Regions from separate parts of the Homo sapiens genome. Here regions 2, 3, 4, 5, 6 and 7 are each reported to be linked to region 1. Evidence: microRNA targets listed by miRTarBase, many of them from high-throughput screens and not tested one by one. Region 1 holds a microRNA gene; each other region holds the end of a gene's coding sequence.
What was found. Region 1 holds the annotated microRNA hsa-miR-100-5p (AACCCGUAGAUCCGAACUUGUG, at 1,493-1,514, opposite strand). A microRNA usually pairs through its seed, bases 2 to 8, with sites in the 3' UTR of a target mRNA and lowers its output. Matches are read on the target gene's strand: a 7mer-m8 pairs with bases 2 to 8, a 7mer-A1 pairs with bases 2 to 7 and ends in A, and an 8mer does both.

Region 1 (3,085 bases):
ACTGATTTAACTTGCTAGCAGTTTATTCATTCCAAGTTAACCACTTCAAAGAGGCATATAAAACTAACCAAGCAAATTGTTTGCTTTTTGTGTAGATAAAGGCCTTAGGCAAACAATTTATACAACACACACCAATGAGGACAGTCTTTCACTTTGGGTTGTAATATGCCATCATTCTATAATAAAGCAATGCTTTCTTGGCAAGCAGGGGGTTGAGCACCATAGACAACCCTCCTCAGTGCTATGCAAAGGAAATGCATGGAAACAATGTCGTCTTGGTCTAGCAATTACAGAATTCCAAATTCTACCCTTTATACATATGTCATCTGTATCTAGGCTGTCCTAATTCGGAAATGCAAAATCTCATTTCTATATACTGGATAAAAGAAAGAGTTTTAGTTATTCCTGAGTAGGTCTTAAGAGGAGACAGAATTTATCCACTTGAATTTCAAACTTTTCTCTAATGTTAACCCACCAACTACTTCATGTTGACTTTTTTTGTTAGAAGAGGACACACACACACACACACACACACACACACACACACACACACATCTTAAGGGAACTTCTGGCACTATGTTTTACCAAAAGGGCATGCAAAAGTTTTAGAGTCATCCAAATCTGATCAACTTTTCACCCTGGGTTCTAGTTCTGTTTACAGACTCCTCAGCTCACATTGTTGGAATGAAACAAATATAGCCAGTTTTGCTTTGATCTGTGGTCAGTTTAGCTTTTCAATCCTGGCACAATGGTGACATTTAAGAGGCAAGAGGATAAAATTATTTTCATTCCAGCGTTTTAAACAGGATAAAGACTTATAAAACAGCTCTGGCCAAATATGAATTTGGACCTAAACAGGCGATCTCTTTTTTATAAGAAGTCCTTCTTACACTGCTGGATATAAATAGAAGTATAAATAGTTAGGCAGTTAAACACATCCATTCTGATTTATCAGTCCTTATCTTCAGAAGCAAAATTATTGGGGAAATTGGGGGAGGAAGAATTGCAACAAAGGAAAACCCAAAAACCCAAATCACGGTGAAATTGGTCCTGTAAACACATCTGCCACTTTCCAGAAAATATCATAATAACTTTGAAAACAATTAGGCTTACAGAAAACAAAACAAACCCTTGTTTATCTCTTTACTCATCACTCAACAGTAAGTTGTTCCAATCACTCAAATTCTTGCTGCCTCACCTGTAAGCTCAGCCTTCTAATTTGACAGCAGAGACCAGTTACAAGAGATATGGGAATTGAGGGCCAGCCTATTAATTCATCATTGAAGAACCTCATTCATTTCAGGACAAAAGGTCTCCTTCCTCCACCTCAGCCCCCTTTTCCATTTTTATCACTCTTAAAGGAAACTAAGGGGAAGAGAAGGAGAATGAAATAACTCGAAGGGATATTGAATGGCATATAAGCAAAGCCCCAGGTCCGTGAGATTGCCTAACAGACACATACCTATAGATACAAGCTTGTGCGGACTAATACCACAAGTTCGGATCTACGGGTTTGTGGCAACAGGCCTCAATATCTTCTCTCTTTTGGGGCTGTGACATGTCTGAAAATAAAATATTACAACCATTAATCCAATAAAAGAGTCTACCATTCAATTGTTTTATGCCATAAATGGAAAGGACTTCGTCCCACTCTCACAAAAGCAAAAGTTAAGCAATATCTTCTATGTTCTCCCCAACGTGCTTCCCTTGGTTTCCACTTTTTCCACAAATCCAGTGGACTTTAGGTAAACCTCATCATTTTACTGTTTATATATGGAAGACTCATTTATTCACTGCTGAACACATAATCTGGGCAAAGTGATACCAAAATGGCAAACCAGCAGAATAAAGAAAATTCTTTAAATTGTAGGCAGAGAGAAAGAACACATGAGAGCCCAAATGCAAGTCCATTCCTTTAAATACCTGTCATTACATTAAAAATGATGGTGAAATTTTCATTTTCCTATTTGCATTCTGGAAAACAACTAGAATAAACTTAGCAAGTACTACCAACGGATTTATAGGTATATTTTTTTTTTTTTTGAAAACCACTCTAGAGTAGATTTTCAGGTATATTAAGATCCATCTTCGGGAAAAGTTTGCATTTTTGTTCCCACCCCCATCCCATCCCCACACTTATTATTGATTCAAACACCAACAATGAGCAAGTTTGGGTGTACTCTGTAAAATTTGAACCATAGAAGAAATTACATAGTTGTTCCTCCTTCCCCCCGCACCCCCCGCCCCCCGCAATACTGTTTGAAAAAACAGGGATGAATCTGTTTCAGAGACCTTCTTATAAAATGATTGCATTTGTCAACATAACATTTTTTTTCTGCAAAGCCAATGTTCTACATATAAGAAGGGAACATCCAAGACAATGGACTTTCATTAACGACGCCTTTTGTGAATTGTATTGAAGACAGGCATAATCATAAGCACTTCAGGGACATATATTATACAGCTAAATAACTCCCTGTCCTAGATGCTGGGAAACACACATGACTCCATCCCTTTACAGGACCTAAAAAGAGACCTTTTTAACTTTTGTTAGCTATAATTATGGATCCTGGCTCTCAAAATAATTATCTCATTTGCCTCAAAAAATGGACATTCACTCCTTTCTCAAGAATCTGGGGCCAGGCACTGGTGGCTCATGTGTGTAATCCCAGCACTTTGGGAGCCCAAGGCTGGCAGATCACTTGAGGTCAGGAGTTCAAGACCAGCCTGGCCAACAGGGTGAAACCCTGTCTCTACTAAAAATACAAAAAAATTAGCTGGGCATGGTGGCGTGCGCCTGTAATCCCAGCTACTCTGGAGGCTGAGGCATGAGAGTTGCTTGAGCCTGGGAGGCAGAGGTTGCAATGAGCCGAGATTGTGCCACTGCACTCCAGCCTAGGCAACAGAGTGAGATTTTGTCTCAAAAAAAAAAAAAAAAAAAAAAAAAAAGAATCTGGGAGATGAACTGAAGCCCTACCAAGGGGAACAAAAAAAGACAGAGCTGAATTGAGGAATTATTCAGAGAAAAGAGCAGGCCCTCGTGTATGCAACCTAAAAAGTTAAATAAAGAGAACAGGAAACCAAC
Region 2 (3,085 bases), not on the chromosome of region 1:
TGGCTTCCTTTAAATTTATATCATAATCTAGACATCATTTTCTGTCCTGCAAATTGGCCCAATCAGAACTACATATGAGCCAACATGTGCACATCCCATTCAATTTTCCCCTTTGAAGTTGTACCTGAACTCAAATAATGGAAGTCATTAAGTCCTTCAGGCAGAATCAGCCAATGATTCAGAAAGTCTCAAACTATTTTTACTCTCATGCTCAAGGATAAATTCAAATTATCCTAATTATATTAAAACCAAAATAAAAGCTTTATTTTAAAAGTCTTATTTAAAATTCAAATCTAAAAAAAGCCTTAAAATTTTCTATTTTGACTCAGCAGTAGATATAGCATCTCTGTTCAAGCAGATGATTCTTTTTCTCTGCATGCTTATTAAAAGCCTATTGTTAAATGTGAAATCTTCACTCAGTCACAGCAGGATGGGCTCTGCTGTGGTTAAAAACAAAAAAGCACAACCAAATCTCAGTGGCTTAACATAATTAAAAGCTTATTTTTTGATCATACAAAGCCCACTGTGGATCCAGCTGACCTACACAGACTCAAGATCAAAGCCACTTTCATCTTGTGGCTGCACCATTTCAGCTGAGGCCTCCTGCACAGTGCTGTGGCAGAGGAAAAGGGTTTGTCATGAGATAGTCTGATAGTGACACACACTACTTCCACCCATGTTTAACTGGTCAGAACTAGCCATCGCCTACCTACAAGAGGGCTGGGAAGTGTAGTTTTCTTTATGCTAGGAAGGAAAGTAGTACAGACATTGCATTTCTGCAAAGGATTGAAATATAATCCATATCTGATGATCTATTCTGGCATAGATTTTGGAGAAGCTAGAGAGAAAAACAAATAGTTAACTAGTCAAACTGGTGATTTCAAATATGCCAGCTTCAGTGAGTCTGACAAATGACAGATGAGTGATAGTGGTAAATCTGTAATTCTAAAACTGCTATAGCCAGACATATAGTGTAGGTTAAAATGAAAACCATGTAGATACCCAAGCAAGCAGTCATTAAGGTGTGGAAGCTTACAATTTGCAAGCACACCTCACATCAGCAAAGATGCGGCAGTAGAGAGGTATATAGGTGCAGTCGATTCTATCAGAGAAGAGTTTCATGTCTTCTCAAATAGTCATAGGTACTTGTTGAGCCCCCAGTGTGCTGTATATGAGACAACTTTAGGCTGGAAAGTGATTAAGAGAATGCATAGCTGACCTCTTCACCCACAAATAAAAGTGATTTAAAGAATGAAAAACTAGAGGCCGTGCGCGTTGGCTCACGCCTGTAATTCCAGCACCTTGGGAGGCCGAGGTGGGCTGATCATGAGGTCAGGAGATCGAAACCATCCTGGCTAACACGGTGAAACCCGGTCTCTACTAAAAATACAAAAAAATTAGCCGGGTGTGGTGGCAGGCGCCTGTAGTCCCAGCTACTCGGGAGGCTGAGGCAGGAGAATGGCGTGAACCCAGGAGGCAGAGCTTGCAGTGAGCCGAGATAGTGCCCCTGCACTCCAGCCTGGGCCACAGAGCAAGACTCTGTCACAAAAAAAAAAAAAAAAAAAAGAATGAAAAACAATCTCTGTACATCAGAACTAGAAAAAAATTAATTCCTCCCTTCACTTTTCCCTATCCCACCTCCACCAAAGTTAAATAAGTTGACCTGCTGAATTAGGTTAAAATTGATTATCATGCTTATCAAGTATGATTTTAATTTCAGTAAAATTGATACTGAGCTCTACTGTTGATAACTGACCAGCTCTATTGGTAATTCCAACCTGCGTTACTCAAGATTATTTATAGCCCCAAAGAGCAAAACCACATTTGCTACAACACCAATTATTAAAATGTGTCAGGTGCACATTCAATTATATTATAACATGATTCTCTTATTTAAAAAAAAAATAAGAAAATGCAGCAAGAATAATTTGACAGTTTTGGGAACTATCCACATAAAGGAATGGATGAGGCAAGATAATGTACAATACCACAAAACCTATGCTAAATTCAATATTTATCTGAAAGTTAAAGAAAAGCAAACAAACATATACAAAGGACATTTCATTTTTAATCACTCAAAAATGAAAAAGGTTTGGACAATGTCAAATTCCACTCACCATAATGCTATAGTTATACATTAAATATAATTACTATCTATACATATGCAAAAATATAAAGTTCTATTTCATACAATAAAACCCTTTATAGAAACCATTTTAAAATTAAGCAGAACTTCTCAACATTAATATGTGAGGTCTAAGTCCTTCTAAAGGTTTCTTTAAAGGTTTTTAAACAAAATGCTAAACCTAAAAACATTGTCCTGTCAGTTCCCAAATTAAATCTACTTAGAACAAAAACAAAAATTTATAGCTCGGTCACATACTACTTAAATAATATTGTTCAGGCATCTCTAAAATCCTCCATGTTTTCAAGTATGGAAATAGAACTCAAATATTCCACAATACAGTACTAAACAGATGGAGTATTTAGGAAAGACTTTGTTGTCATATGGCACAATATTAATATTTTGTTGCTTCAATACATTTTGAAATAAATATCAGATTTTTGTTTTTTTTTCCTAAAAGACCAAAATTATAATCTACATTAAGATAATTCTGACTGTGGTTAAGACTTAAGAGTGTAAAATACAACATCAATATTTTATCACAAAAGTAAAGCTGGTAACAAATTATAAAAGGAGCCAGTACTCTACTGAGACAGGCTCAGAGATTAAAGCTCATCATGATAGAAATAGTCATCATGGAGCTGTCTGCCATAATCTGTGGCTTCACTGGTGAGAAACAAGTCCGGGTTTTCCAGAATCTCTTCTTCAGAGAGCTTTTTGTCACCATTCAAATCCATTTCATCAATTAGATGAAGCGCCTTCAAAATAAAACAAAAAAGTGTCAAGTGTAATAAGTATTTTCAGCAAGATGTTCACAATTTAATGTGATTTGACTTGTCAAAATCATCCAGGTGTACAAGTACTCATTATTGTTTAAGTATCTAAAAATGTTACACGTTGTAACCAGGTCCGTCTACTGCTTTTCCCATTATCTCCTTTCTTCATTTCTGCTGGGTTCTG
Region 3 (3,085 bases), not on the chromosome of region 1:
AGAGAAAACAGAGAACACAGTCAGAAAGGGCATCAACAGGACAGTGTCAGACAGCAGTGCAGGAAATTTTGCAAATCTGATTCCAGGTTGTAGACGGACTGCTCTCCCCCACCCCTTCGTTATTAAACAGGGCTCATTACATGTGGACCCAGTTGTGGGCCATCCCTGAGATTCAATGTTCGCTGCTTCTCACATGGAGGATGTCTGGTAACTCAACTCAGCAGCAGGCTGTGGCAATCTCCCAAGTAAGGATAACTTTGTTTACAGAGTAATCGTTTCCTCCTCCTTTGTCAACGCAAGTCGCTGTGTGCTGCAGGGGAAGACACGCTTGCTTCCTCCTGCATCGGTACCATTCTCCTTTATTGTTCAATATCTATGAGTGATTTCTAGATGTTGTGGCTTACCCTTAAACAATTCATGCTAAAAATGAATTAAAATACAAGACATTTATACATGTACAAACAAATGTTAAGATGCACCATTTCTATGTATTTATATTTCTCAAAATAGGACAGAAAATAGCAGCAAACAAGAACAAAGATATTTTCCATAGTTTTTGTAGAAAAATCCAGTCAGAAGAGCTAAGGGAAAAAGACTTTTCAATGTAAGCAGGGTTGTGAGGCAATATTGTCCTGAAAATTCACCTACTGTATGTATTTAAGGAATTAGCTTAAGATGTAATTTTTGTCCTCAAAAATAGCCATTAGTTCTCAAAACTTTCCCTTCCAGAGACATCTCTCAGGAATCTAAAAACAAACAAGCAAACAAACAAAAAGACACAAGCTAGACATAAAGCTGCTTCTAGTTAATATACGGCCTAGTCTCTGTGTGTATCTACAGGACGCTAACTCTCACCCTTTGTCTTTTGCAGGAACCAATTTTCCATTAAATACTAAAGGGGACATTTAAAAAATCACATAGTACACAAATGAATAAAACGCAGTTCAGAATTTTATCTTTGTTAAACTGTCACTGTTATCTCATTGTTCTGTTAACTTTTCAAATAACTCTCTTGGAAACAAAAAAAACCTGTTGGTTAGCTAAGCAATGGAATTCTTTATTAATAACTGACAATGGAATAGTGCTCCAAAAGTCATGGCTAAAAATTCTCTTAAACCTACCTGTAACTTTGGGTCAAAATATACAACATATCCGGGTTGTGTAAAATGTCGAGCGGCTAAATTAGAGGGGGACATAACGGAAGTGATTTTCCTTCGGCTGGAAAAAAATCCCCAGAGTCAGACCTAGTTTTCAGAAGCATTAAGATCAAAAAGGGTTTGTTCTAAAGCATGGCATTCCACAGCAACATTTATTCTACTTGTCCGTTTTAGCACTTTTTCAAAAACCCAGGACTAAGGACATGGAGGTTGATGTGTATGATACACACATACAGACTTATCCACTTACAGATAGGCCCATATACTTACAAACATTTACATATAAACAAAAGGTGAAAACAGTACATTTTTATGCACGCTCCATTAAACCCTGTCATTTTTTTAAAACTTGTAAGTGAAACACAGTTTAAATCAATATCAGATTCATGTTGAAAAACAAACTGCTGTATTCCTCCCACTCCTTTCAAATGGGCACACAGAACCTTCTCAGTATTTCTGTCATTATGTAATGCACATTGCACATCCCTAAAAAACACCAAAAACGAATAGTGATTTGTACCATGACACACTCAATGGGGAGATTAAATTCTACTTGGAAGTCACATCACTACACAGTCTAATAGTATGGAGAATACAACTAGAAGTATGTCCAGTGTGGAAAATAGAAGCTTAGAGTATGACAGTATTTTTTGACCTGTTTACAAAGCATTAAGACCAAAATGAAATAAATGAGTTGCTATTAGCTGCTGAGATTTTTCTTGAGATTTACAGTCATTTTCTTACATAAATATACCACTAGCCTCTGCGTGATAGGCTGCCAAAACAAATATATCCTACTGATTTGGCAAATGTGTCATGACAAAAATTCCAATGTATAATCCCCATTCATTACATAGATGGTTCAGAAGATTCTGAATTGTAGCCTTATCATCTAAAATCCTTACAGAAGATTTATTAAGCACACTTAAGTGATGTTACATAGATACACATTTCAGAAAAAGCCCTAATAACCACCACTTTTCCCCAAATGAGGCCATCAAGTCAGGCACCAACAGATAGCAGAAAGAAAAACAGGAATTAATAATCCAACATAAAATGACACTGTCAACTATTCAGTTTAGTGCCCTAGTTCAATTGATTCAACTTCTGCCTTCTTAGGCCTGGTGTGACCAATGCCAGCCCAGGTTTTTAAACCCTATGGTACTTCTAGACAACGTATGTAAATTTACAGTATACAATTTGGATTCACCATGCATGAATACTTTGTGTGTAACATTTAATAAGCTCAATCTACATCCAGAATAATTTACATGAAAGGACAATATTTATTTAAACAGAGCTCAATGGGGTAACCATGGTATCATCAGAGTGCATCCAGAGGAAAAGAGGGAGGAGGGGCCGAAGGAGACACAATCAACGGCACTCCCACACTTTTACTGTTTGATCTACGCTGCCAGTGACGACATAGGGTGCCGTCTTGTGGAAATCTGAAAGAAAAAGAAATGGTTTATTTAAAACTCACACGTAAGCCTGGACAACAAACATAGTGAGACCCCCTCTCTACAAAATACAAAATTAAAAAAAAAATTAGCCGGGCATGGTAGTGTGTGCCTGTAGTCCCAGCTACTCGGGAGACTGATGCAGAACTGTTTGAGCTGGGAAGTCGAGGCTGCAGCGAGCCATGACTGCACCACTGCACTCCAGCCTGGGTGACAGAGCAAGACCCTGCCCGGTCCCAACCCTCCATCACACTGAGCCAGATACAATTTTTAATGAGCCACAAAATTCTAAGAAAGTCCAAATGCCAGTAGTTTTCGTGTTTCTCTAATATACCATAACCCAAGAAGGTATCTAGTTTGCCAATTCAGTTAGGGAAGTTGAGACTCAATGATCAAATCCTGTATTAACATCTCAATAAAAACGCCTGTTCCTCTTTGGCCCATCCCAAATGGGGCTCAAATCCTTTT
Region 4 (3,085 bases), not on the chromosome of region 1:
GATAAAGCTGATGAAAATTGGTGAACAATTTGTTCCTTTCCATAACTACTATCAGATTAATTTAAAAAAGATTATTTTTAAATCTATGCCAACTATGGGAGTAGATCACAAGACAGTCAGTTCCAGTAGCATGTGATTAGGTGGGGGGAGGAAAGGGGGTTATAAAGGAATATTTCTTTGTTTGGGTGACACAAAGATGAATGGTCTATTGTCTTACTGTCTGAAAAGAAAAAACAACTCAACAGTGCCACCTCCTGGAGAAATTACCAAATACACTTTTAAACGCTATTAAATTTGTTCCAATTATCTGTACCTTCACTTTTTAGTATGTTGCTTTTAGTTATCACAGGCTTACAGTACTTATATATTTCCTTCTTCAAACTGTATCAGCTTCTGGGACATGGTAACTTGCATATGGCACTGAGAAAATGTTTGAGTGAATATATTTATTATTTCACTTTTTAAATTGGAAACCCTAGGAACTATATTTCATTTTTGTCTAATGAGATTGACATTAAATATAAAAGTGGCACTGTCAGTTCTCCTTTGTGAGATACTGGACATAAGATTTCACCTTATTTGCAGGACTAAAGTAAATTTATCTTATTACTAAAAACCGTACCTTTCTCCAGGAAACATTCTATAGCAGAAAGATAACATAAAGCAATTACACATCATGAAACCATTGCTGTTCGTAGTAAGATCACTTCTTTAACCTAAGAAAGCTTGTTTTAATATTCTACAAAAAAATCAAAGTTCTACCTCTTTGAAGAATGCCAATTATAGAAGGTACGAAATTTACTGTTTTACCAGGTAAAACACAAATATGCTGCCCAGCCAGTGGGAGGGAAAACAACTTAAGCTGAGGCGAACGGACATAGGCTAAGAGCTACTCCTTAGTATTTGGGCATTTTTCCCCCTATGAAATGCATGTGATTCAGAGACACAACTCACCTCTCCCAAAAGCAACATGGGCTTTATCCATTTCTGCATTAACCTAGAGTTAAAAAGGAATATTGTTTATTGTTTGGCTCTCCCCACTAGAAGTTTCACAGGAGCACAGATCATATCTACCATTTGAACAGCTCTCTGCCTGATGGCTAATACATTTCTTGGCATATAGTAGGTAGGTGCTCAATAAATTTGTTACAGGAATAAATGAGATAGGATTTTCAAGGGTATTTTCTATTAGGATTTAATAAAACAAAGTGATCTTTAGAGAAACAAATCTCCCCATCAACATGCTATACTTAATAAGTGTTAAAATCACTAGAAGTCTCTGGAACATTCAGTAACAATATACTCTAATTCTCTGCTTTCCTTATGTGTTATTCTAGGGCAAAATCCCTTTCTTCCAAATGTTTCCTATCATTGCAGTTTCCAAATGTATATAAACATGTTGTTTTTTGTTGAACTACAGTATGGATTTAGTATGAATTCAGCCTATCCAAATAGTCATAATTTATTAACATATAGTACAACTTCCTACACATCAATATACCCAGAGCCCAGCAAATAATTATGGGGTCCCTGTTAGTGAATTAAATCAATTCTGCATCATCCACATATGGATTAGCCATGTTGTGGACAGTGCAAGTACTTTTCAAATCTCCAGATTTCCCTATTACTCAAGAGCTGGTGATCTGAAACAAGAAAATTTGAGCTGTTCAAGTCCCAACAGCTTAATTTTGTGTGTCCATGGGCACACAGCATTAGATTCTTCATCTGTTAAGTAGTGATACTGATACCATCTTCCCGTGGTAATTTTTGAGGCTGAGATAGAATGATTCTTTAAACAATCTCCACCAATCATATGATGGCAGCTCTAATGGGGAAAGTTCATCATTCATTCCAAAGTCTAATGTAAACTGCTTCTGAATTTTACAATTCTCTTACTGATATAGAGATTTGTAATTGATTGCCAGTGAGGCCAAGGTCATTAATTTAATTCTTAGTCCTTCACTTCGTAAACAAGGAAATCTCTTTCCAAATTGTCTATCAAGACCCAAGAACTGGTACAACACTGTTGATGGCTGATTCCAACCCATCAATGTTTTGAGGAGGACCTCAAAACATGTTCTTCTGATAGTCAATTAGTAGCATCTCCTTATAAGAAAAGCAGCAAAAATACACGTTTGCTCCAGAAATTATAGGGCCGAAATGGATTTACAGTGCTGTTAACATCTATTAACCACTGGGAAGAGCTGGACTAGTTCATTTATCAACACCATGGGATTAATGGATATAGTTGATTCTGTTATAGAGCATCACTAAAACAGTTTTAGAACAGACATCTTCATAGAATAGGGATATTAATAACACTGTCCTTTTGGCCCACTAACATTTGCATTTCAAACAAAAGACTGTATTACAATGGCTGGGCACAGTGGCTCTCGCCTATAATCCTAGCACTTCAGGAGGCAGAGGCGGGAAGATCACTTGAACCCAGGAGTTTGAAACCAGCCTGGGCAATATAGTGAGACCTCATCTCTTAAAAAAAAAAAAAAAAAAAAGACTATTAGAAGAGAACAGTCTATTAACAAATATTTTAAAATTTTCTTTATTTCAGAACTGCCTTTATGTACAGACATCATTTAAAAAATGCACATACAATGGAGATTTTCCAAGGAACAGGAGCTGGAAATAAAATTTAAGGACATTATTAGAACTGAAATTGTCCCAGAGAAGTTCTGAGGATCAGGATTCCTTAAATGTCCTTGATAACCTCTTCAAGTTCTTCCTTTGTGAACATGTGGAAATTCTGGCCAGGCTGCACTGTGGCTAGCTGGAAAGAAAACAGAAGGGTTAATAAGCTGGGCTGAGTTACCCTGCTGATGGCCCTACCATGGTCAGGAGAAGCTGTGTTGGTGATGCAGCTATTCATTAGGAACTAAGGGATCTGCTGTCCCAAGGATATCCTTTCCAGGCAGCAGGTCCCTAAAATAGCTCTCTGGCTCCAAAATAAAAATGCTTATTGACCAAATTTTCTATTTTAAGGTTAACTCACCACATCATACTTAACCAAATGCCTGGCATCATTGTCACTTCTTGAAGTCACTTCAACAGGGATCACAAAAGCAGCAGC
Region 5 (3,085 bases), not on the chromosome of region 1:
AACTTTCATTTTTTAAGTTTTTCTTTTAAATTTGGTTTGAATCCCGGATGGTGCTTCTGACACACGTCCTCCCGCCCAAGGAGCCTCTAGAGCATCACCTTCCAAATGGGCAGGTGCTTTTTCACAGTGGAGGCCTCCAGGACATACTGGTAATCTCTAGTTTTAGTTAAAACATTAATTGGCACTTTATTTCCTTATTTAGACCCGTGAAGAATGGCAGAATGTGTTCCTCATAGCTGCCCTGGTGCATTACAGTGGTGTGATCTTCTATGGGGTCTTTGCTTCTGGGGAGAAACAGGAGTGGGCTGACCCAGAGAATCTCTCTGAGGAGAAATGTGGAATCATTGACCAGGACGAATTAGCTGAGGAGATAGAACTCAACCATGAGAGTTTTGCGAGTCCCAAAAAGAAGATGTCTTATGGAGCCACCTCCCAGAATTGTGAAGTCCAGAAGAAGGAATGGAAAGGACAGAGAGGAGCGACCCTTGATGAGGAAGAGCTGACATCCTACCAGAATGAAGAGAGAAACTTCTCAACTATATCCTAATGTCTGAGAGGCACTTCTGTCTTCTCCTTACTTTAGAAACAGAAAGTATCCATACCTATTGCCTTTCTTGTAGCCCAGCTTGCCAGAGGTCCAAATATTGGGAGGGGAGAAGATCTAACCAGCAACAGGGAAAAGAGAAATATTATCTTTCAATGACATGTATAGGTAAGGAGCTGCGCTCAGTTGATAACATAGTTGATAATACATATTTTTTGAATTGACAGTTGACCCTTCTCTCAAAGAGCTAAACTTATTCAGAAAGGAATGACTAGAAGAAAAAGGAGACAATACCATGTTGTTCAAAGAAACATTGAAGGAAATTGGGATGTTTGGCCAGAAGGAATGTAAACAGTAGTAGTAGCTGCCACCACATCTCTAGGGTAGCCATGCAGAGGAGGGCTTCATATTCCCAATAAACCCCACGTTGTGGCAGGTGCTTTATAAACACTCTTATTTAATCTCCACACCTTTATGACACACATTTCTTATCCCCATTTTACAACCAAGGCATCTAAAGCAACAAGAAATGAACTTGCCCAAGGTCATCTGCCAGGGTCAGTGCTGAGACTGTTGAAGCTCTCAATAGGTGGCAGTTTTAGGGAAGATTTCCATTCAGTGTAGGGAAGACATTTGTAATAATGAAAACTGAAAATGGAGTAATTGTGAGTAACTCACCACTTTAGCAGGTGTTGGGGAAGGGAAACATTTGGGTTGATGAGGCAGAGGGGATTCAAATGTGTGAGAGGCTAGATTCAAAGACCCTCAGTGTTCTATGTTATCTGAAGAGTCAAATGGTTTTGTGACTCCATAGTTTTTAAAGTAATAAGGGTCAAAGACTACATCAGAGATTCAAATAGGTTTTTAAAGAAAAGCTAAGCAAGAGAGCCAAATTTTTAGAAATCTGATGGTCAAAATAGCTGAAAGCAGTAAACAAGAGATTGGCTATTAAATTTCAACTTTCCATAATATTAAGAATGTAGCTAAATGATGTCCCAAACTACTTACAAACTTTTAAGACATTTAATAATTTAAGAAGTAGGTTCATGTGTTTTCTTAGGTAAAGTTCTTCTGAAAGAATTTTCTATTTTTAAAAAATGTATCTCTTTAGCCTTTTCTGCTGGAGATTATATTAGGAAGTTTCATCAGATTGTATAAAATTATGATTTTGTATCAAAAGTATTCATGATGACTCTATTTGGAATGATATTCAGGGAAATCACAATAATATAGCAGTAGTTATACAGAGAAATACTACAATGAAAACATTTGGGGCAATTAGACCTACAGTTACTGTTGAAAAATTCACCTTTGATTGCATAAGGCAATTACATGGATACTTTTAGATATATTTAAAATTTTAACATTGGCATCTAAAGTGTTATTTGAAAATAAAATTATTTTCCTGTTCATTGATTTTAAACATTTTATTCCTACTTTCAGAAGAAAAATATAATACGGAAAAAATTATAGATTTACTTGTAGCTTATTATTGTAAAGTGTTTTTTTTTTTTTTTTTTTTTTCTAATTTCTCCCACATGTATTTCTGGTCCCCAGTGATACTAGCTGAGTTGTAGTGTATTTTATAAATGGAATAATCTTGGGGAAAAATTGCGATTCTTCATTAAATAATATTCTTTATGTCACTAGCATACAATTTATGTTAGTAGACATCTTTAAATCTCTTTAATGAGTGAATCCATGCAAGCCCCATAAAACAGTTCCTAGCATGCAGAAAATGCCCACGTAAATAGCTGTCATCATCATTATCTTTTAACATTTTGGGGGACTTTCCAGTTGAAAAGAAAACATGCTATGTCATTTTTATCCATTATCCCTGGAACTTATTGTGAAAGTTGTGCTGTTTTCTAAGTAAAATAAAAAATAAAAAATTAGCAATTTATGATAGCCAGTGTTTTATTTTGTGTGTGTGTTAGTAAAGTCAAATAATTGTATTTTAAAAACTCACGATAATCCTTAAGGTAGTATTGTATATTGTGACACAAAGTTGTATTTATCGCATCATTTGAAGTTGGTATCATATGCAGAAAACCCACGTTTTTCCTGTAACTTGCCTTTATAATATGTATTTTTTTTTAAATGAAGTCATGGATCAAGGTGTTAAAAACTAAAAAATACATTATTTTGTTGTGATGGGTTTTTCTCTGCATAGGTAGCAATGGATAAATAATTACATTTTAACACCAGACAGATGCCATTTGCAAGTCATTGTACATTTTGCTGCGAATGTCCATTTGTAGGTCAATTCATGGATGCAAACCATGGATTCTAGCAGGAAGGGAAGGAGGCCTGTAGGTGCAGGGTTCTTGAGACAAGAAAGATCTGATGATCCTTTCCAACAATCAAAGTTTTGGAAATTCCTTAATATGACAAGAAAAGTAAGTATTAAAGAAATAATGGCCCATTTGTTATCCCTGTCTGGATGTTAAATTCAACAGGTAAAAATTGGAACCTATTATGTGTATTTCTATTTTACTCTGCCTCCTCCCAACCCCAATAAATCTGTTTTTCTTTCTCTAT
Region 6 (3,085 bases), not on the chromosome of region 1:
AGAGTACAGATAACAGGTGCTGATGTAACATGGTACTGAGTTAATATAGTGGCCTTGCCCTTAAAAATTCTGGGATCCTAAATAGAAACTTCAAACTTGAAATGTTAGTCTTAATAGATCTTACAAATTTAATTCTAAAAAAAAAATGAAGACCCTGGGGAAGAGCACAGAAGGACTGTCCTTGCAGTATGGATGTTGTAGTGCTCAACTGATGCTTCCATTCTATACCCAAATATCAGACCAGTACCTCCTGCCTACTATTCATGATATATTTTCATCTGGTTAGATGTCCAGAGCAAGACATTCTATTTTTGGAGATGCTTTTGTTTTTTCCTTCAAGTAACCTCAAACTACTTATCAGTTTCCTAGAGGAAGTTCTGGCTTCTGGACTGCACAGCCGAAGCAAGGAGAGCTCTCAAGTCACATCAAGGTCAGCGAGCAGAAGATGAAACGGTGGTTGGGGGAAGGGCACAGCTTCCTCTCTTGTCCCCACTACAGGTTTTCCCTACTAAACAAAGGTGTTGGAGAGCAGCTTTGGGTTCTGTGCTGGTTGTTAGAACTCATCTCCAGGTAGCCCACGGATACGTGGTTGGCACAGACACAAGACTCCCAGAGTTGTCCTAACAATAAGTCTGAGCCCATCTCAACCCACTTTTCTCCGGTAGTCTTTATGTATCTGTTAGCACAATCACTTCAGTTACTGATGAATTTTGTTGGGATCTGACTTGGGGAAAGGGTTATCAGAGCCTAGAGGGGCTTAAAAAGTAATCATTTGATGTACATACCACACTCCTTGGCTTCCTTTCTCTTCCCTTAACCCTTTCTGCTTTTCATTAACCACATTCCTGCACAACTCATTTCTGAAAACCTACCATGTTTCTTTACAGAGCCATCCAAAAATTTTTTGTCCCTACATAGCAATTTTCTGTGGCACTGAGAAACCATGTATGACCACAATAAAAATCCATTTTGTGAAAGGATATGAGTGATTTAGTTTTATTTCTTTGAGGCTAATTTATGGGAATTTATGAGGTGGGACATGAGCTGGTTTCACACCAAACATAATGAAGGCATTACTTCTACCTGAAGGATATTTAAAGTATGTCAAGGCAAATAATAAATTCTAGTGTCAATTTCACCTCTCTTGAAAACAGGAGAAAGTGACAGTATCATTATTGCCAGGAAATTAAGGCATCCTCAAATCATCATAGCAAAAATACCAAAGCACAATCCCTCCCTGTTTTGTGTGTGTGTGTGTGTGTGTGTGTGTGTGTAAACTTGTATGTTGACAAATATTCTCTAGCATCAGACAGTAAGGGTCAAACCTATGTCATATTTATATGGCTTTGGGAATATTATTTAGCCTCTTTGTGGCTCAGCTTTCTCATCTATAAAATAGAACCTTCCTCATAGGATTAGAAGAATTAAATGAGATGAGATGATACATGAAAAGTGCTTAAAACACTGGTATACGGTAATCATTTAATAAAATTTGGCTAATAGTAAATAAGATTAATTTCTGTCTCTAAGTTGGGGTTACAGAGTCACATGTAAAATGATTGGACTAATCATTTTAATCATTGCACATCTAATCATTGCACTAATAAGCAGTTCAAAAAATAGAGGGAAAAGCTGAAAGGTCATTCTGTCCCTCTCTTTTTTCCACTCGTCCCAGCTCTCAGCTGTTGTTTCTTTTTTTTTATTATTTTTTATTTTTAGTAGAGATGGGGTTTCACCATCTTGGCCAGGATGGTCTTGAACTCCTGACCTCGTGATCCACCCGCCTCTGCTTCCCAAAGTGTTGGGATTACAGGCGTGAGCCACTGCACTCGGCCTCAGCTGTTGTTTCTTTACACGCACTCATGAAGTAAAATCCAAGTTCTTTTTTTTTTTTTTTTGCTTTTGTGGGTCCCTTTGGGTAATTTTTTCTTCTTCATTTTTTATAAGTATTTAAGACAGCCTGCACTTGGGGATGGAGTATTTTAAATGCAGCATTTTACAAGTTATATAGCCTTTTAAAATATGAAAAACTCCCTCCTCCAAGCAGGAATATCTGTGCTTCTCTTCCTATCAGCAAGATAACGCTGTGGAATAAAAAGAGCAAAAACAGAGACCTTCCTTATGTCATTTTCCTCATTATTCATCTGCTTCCATTGTGCCTACTCAACTGACAATATCAAGAAGTCTAAGAAATGAGCCCTACCATCAGGGTGTTTGATGTCAGAAGTTGGCATTTCTTTATTAAGAATCAAAGACACGTATTTTTGTGTAAGATTTACAGAGCTGATTCCATTTGTACTGGCCCTTTATTTTTGTGCCCTTTAAAAACATCACTTTAATTAAGGTCTTGTATGCTTTTAATAATCCTCTCCCCCATAGGTGGAAATGCCCTGGTCAAAACCTCTGTGTTCCATTTACTCCACAAAAGCCAAGGATATTTGTTTTTAGACAACTGTGTTTGAATAACAGTTTCTGTCCAGTAAACTTGCAAGCAGCAGTTGACAAGTTTTTATCTCTAATAGTTCCCTTCTTTCTCCCTTTAGTGAAGTTATAAAATATTCCGTTATAGAATACAGCTACTAGCAGTCGCGTCTTATCCTCAGATGTTGTTAGAGAGGTACCCCCATCATGAGGTCCTCCCAGTGTCTTATCTTCACCACAGACAGAAACTGGCTGAGAGTGATTTCTGTGGTTTATGTGCGTGTAGTGTCAAGCTCACTGAGGAGCGCTGAGGAGACAGCGCTATAAAAATGTGTATAGGAACACATACGTTCTCAGATTTCTCACTTTAGCATTGGTCTTTGGAAAACAGTCCCACCTACATCCCAATTCAGGTGCCATGAGGTTCACCTGGTGAGACAAACCAGCTTCAAGAATAGGCCAGGGGAAGTGGAAAGGGGTGAGTGACAGGACAAAGGGAGAACAGGTGAACGAAAGTAGGGGCAGGATCACAGGATGGAGCAGGGCAGAGAGAAAGAGAGGACACCAGAGATTTATGTAACATCTTAAGAGAGCAGACAGGCAGGGAAGGTTCTGCAGCCCACATGCATCTGCTGTGGAATCTGAAAATTACTTTAGACGGTTT
Region 7 (3,085 bases), not on the chromosome of region 1:
TCTAGAGTTTTCTTAAATCTTTTTATTTATTTATTTTTGAGACAGGATCTCACTATGTCGCCTGGGCTGGTTTGAGACAGGATCTCACTATGTTGCCTGGGCTGGAGTGCAGTGGTGTGATTATGACTCACTGTACCCTCAAGCTCCCAGGTTCAAGTGATGCTCCTACCTAAGCCTTCTGAGTAGCTGGGTAGGGATTACATAGGTGTGCACCACCACACTCGACTAATTTTTGTATTTTTTGTAGAGATGGGTTTTCGCCATGTTGCCCAGGCTGGTCTTGAACTGGGCTCAAGCAGTCGAACCACCTCAGCCTTTCAAAGTGCTGGGATTACAGGCATGAGCCATGGAACTTAAATCATTTTTGAAACATAGTTAATAATGGCCTTCTCAAATTAAGTCAGCTAGTAGAAAAAAGTCTAACATTTTACATCGAGTCCAAAGCTAGTTTGGGGGAAAAGGCTTTTGATCTTTAAATGCCAAGGGGAAAGGTATTTTATCTGTCAAGAGATGATACAATTCAGTGGAATAAAATGTGTATCCACACAGATGACTTTTGCTTCTACCAATTTTATCTTTTATAAAACCCTGACATGGCCGGGTACAGGGGCTCCTGCCTATATCTCAGCACTTTGGGAGCCAACGGGGTAGGATCGCTTGAGCCCAGGAGTTTGAGACCAGCCTGGGCAACACAGTGAGACTTCATCTTTACAAGAATAAAATAAAAAAATTAGCCAGGCATGGTGGTGTACCTATGTAGTCCCAACTACTTGGGAGGCTAAGGTGGGAGGATCACTTGAGCCCCCAGAGGTTGAGGCTGCAGTGAGCCATAATTGTGCCACCATACTCCAGCCTGGGCGACAGAGACCCTGTCTCAAAACAAAACAGGCCGGGTCAGGGTGGCTCACGCCTGTAATCCCAGCACTTTGAGAGGCTGAAGCGGGAGGATTCCTTGAGCTCAGAAGTTCAGACCAGCCTGGGCAACATCAGACCCTGTCTCTTTTTTTTTTTTTAAAGTAAAACAAACAAAAACAAAAAAAAAACTCATGATCCTTTTGTGGTTCATAAGCATGATGATTGGGTATTCACACCCACGTGTGAGATGTGCCTCCCTCAAACCTTGTTACAACTTCAACCATTACCCATCTGACAGTAAAAAAAAAAAAAAAAAAAAGTAAAATTTTAAAAATCATGTCTTATTTCAGCATCTTATATTTTTAAAAACCAATATTTTGGTAGATGACAAATTTATACCATTAATAACTTTATTTTTTTTTCTTTCCTCAACTTTTGTTTTAGGTTCAGGGGATACCTGTGTAGGTTTGCTACATGGGTAAATTGTGTGTTGCTGGGGATTCGTGTACAAATGATTTTATCACCCAGGGAGTGAGCATAGTAACCAATAGCTAGTTTTTCGACCCTCGCCTTCCTCCGAATCTGCCCCTTCAAGGAGGCCCTGGTGTCTATTGTTCCCATCTTTGCGTTCATGTGTACTCAATGTTTAGCTCTCACTGATAAGTGAGAACATGTGGCATTAATCACTTTAAAACATAGTATGACAGATATCATTTTCTTACAGAGCATCAGATATTAATATGTATGGATCACTTTGTTAAATTAACAAAAATCATCTGAAAATCAGCACAATATTTCATTTATTTATTGTATAAGTTTGGCAAACAGCACAAAAATCCAGCAACATTTAAAACATATAAAAAAGTCAAATGCTAAACAGGACTAGGGATTTTTTTTTACATCATTAGAAATAACGAGTACACATTTTAAGATTCTGCAAAGCTAGCAAAATGAAGATGCTTGCCTTCTGAACATATACTACAAACACACATACAAAAAAACAATATAATTTATCTTTACAAAAATTACAGCCAAGCAATAGAAAAGAAGGATGTTAATGATGAAGATAGCAACACATATGTTTAGTACATATATCTTACACATTGAAATGCTACATCTTATACCCTGAAATGCCATGTGTAGAGAGCCAAGCAGAGTAAATTTAGGCTCATTACTGAGGTTAAGAATTATTTGAGAAGAATTTAATTCTTATATGTAACATATTCAGTTAAAACTTTCTATATAGGAGTTGCTAGAGGATGACAATGTATCCCATTATAGATCTGAGAAGTTGAGTCTTCTTTGTTGGCAGTATAAAATTTCTGACCAGTATCAAAATTCTGGTAAAACACAAATTGAAGGCATTTTCTAGTGTATGCAAACATTACAAGGGGCATCAATGAATGTAGAAGAAAATCGTAGATTTTTCACATCAAGTTTCTGCTGAGCTTTGTCAAACCAAATAGCTCAACTATAAGGCAAGAGAAAACAACTCCCTATAACAGATTAGTGGATCTTACCAAGTAAATATAGGAATTCAATCTTAGGGAAAAATTCCCTACATTAATAGATCTGAAACAGCTGGTCTTGAAACAAACATCTAGAAATTAACGAACATCTTGACATTCAGTCATTGGTTCAGAAGCGTGACAAACAATCTGTTGGTATATATTATTAAATTAACTTTTTGGAATCAGCACCAGTCCCCAAAACCTCAAATTATAATATTTAATCTTCATTAAAATATATTTTTTGTGCTACATTAACACGACCACAATTAAGTTAAAGAAAGCTGAATTTATTTAACTTATTGTATATGTTTATGTATACTAGGTAGTGACTTAAATTTCTTTTATTTACTTGTGCTTCTGTTTTGGGGCACTTTGATTGAAGAGAAATTCAATTCACAGGATTACATCTTGCTAAAGCATTCCTTAGCATTGGTCCAAACTTGAATTCCCTAAAAATAAAAATAAAAACTTTAAAATGTGAGTTTGGAAGGAATCTGAAAACCCAAGTACTTGGCTTAGTGGTACACTAAGTTTTGCTTTTTGGAATAATTAAGAAGTCGAGAAAATATGACACTATTTTGGGAAGTGGCTAATATAAGCAAATGTCTAATGCTTCTGAAAAGAGAAACAGAATCTCTAATACGAACTTATCTTCAAAATGGAAAAAGAACTCCTACAACTTGTTGGAAAACTGAGTTAATTCATTTCATATCACATAC

Region 2: miRTarBase lists RCN2 as a target of hsa-miR-100-5p. The part of its 3' UTR that is shown has no 7-base or 8-base seed match.
Region 3: miRTarBase lists PAFAH1B1 as a target of hsa-miR-100-5p. The part of its 3' UTR that is shown has no 7-base or 8-base seed match.
Region 4: the mRNA of PSMA5 is a reported target of hsa-miR-100-5p. The part of its 3' UTR that is shown has no 7-base or 8-base seed match.
Region 5: the mRNA of SLC17A8 is a reported target of hsa-miR-100-5p. The part of its 3' UTR that is shown has no 7-base or 8-base seed match.
Region 6: the mRNA of VPS45 is a reported target of hsa-miR-100-5p. The part of its 3' UTR that is shown has no 7-base or 8-base seed match.
Region 7: miRTarBase lists SNX4 as a target of hsa-miR-100-5p. The part of its 3' UTR that is shown has no 7-base or 8-base seed match.

The regions. Positions count from the first base shown.
Region 1 is chr11:122,150,783-122,153,867 of GRCh38, forward strand. MIR100 (microRNA 100) reads right to left here and starts at 1,526; the gene lies at 1,447-1,526. The region is part of intron 4 of MIR100HG (mir-100-let-7a-2-mir-125b-1 cluster host gene); the gene reads right to left. MIR10526 (microRNA 10526) reads right to left here and starts at 1,374; the gene lies at 1,321-1,374.
Region 2 is chr15:76,948,868-76,951,952 of GRCh38, reverse strand. RCN2 (reticulocalbin 2) reads right to left here. Exons shown (of 7, transcript NM_002902.3): 7 at 1-2,883. The coding sequence ends at 2,731. Among named protein-coding and RNA genes, the nearest start is that of RCN2, 19 kb to the right of the region's middle.
Region 3 is chr17:2,681,249-2,684,333 of GRCh38, reverse strand. PAFAH1B1 (platelet activating factor acetylhydrolase 1b regulatory subunit 1) reads right to left here. Exons shown (of 11, transcript NM_000430.4): 11 at 1-2,605. The coding sequence ends at 2,532. Among named protein-coding and RNA genes, the nearest start is that of MIR6776, 10 kb to the left of the region's middle.
Region 4 is chr1:109,399,306-109,402,390 of GRCh38, forward strand. PSMA5 (proteasome 20S subunit alpha 5) reads right to left here. Exons shown (of 9, transcript NM_002790.4): 9 at 1-2,785. The coding sequence ends at 2,708. Among named protein-coding and RNA genes, the nearest start is that of SORT1, 2.9 kb to the left of the region's middle.
Region 5 is chr12:100,419,613-100,422,697 of GRCh38, forward strand. It overlaps SLC17A8 (solute carrier family 17 member 8), which reads left to right. Exons shown (of 12, transcript NM_139319.3): 12 at 203-2,443. The coding sequence ends at 547. Among named protein-coding and RNA genes, the nearest start is that of NR1H4, 53 kb to the right of the region's middle.
Region 6 is chr1:150,144,348-150,147,432 of GRCh38, forward strand. It overlaps VPS45 (vacuolar protein sorting 45 homolog), which reads left to right. Exons shown (of 15, transcript NM_007259.5): 15 at 362-982. The coding sequence ends at 449. Among named protein-coding and RNA genes, the nearest start is that of PLEKHO1, 4.0 kb to the right of the region's middle.
Region 7 is chr3:125,445,012-125,448,096 of GRCh38, forward strand. SNX4 (sorting nexin 4) reads right to left here. Exons shown (of 14, transcript NM_003794.4): 14 at 1,639-2,815. The coding sequence ends at 2,768. LOC124906351 (small nucleolar RNA U13) reads left to right here and starts at 1,050; the gene lies at 1,050-1,152.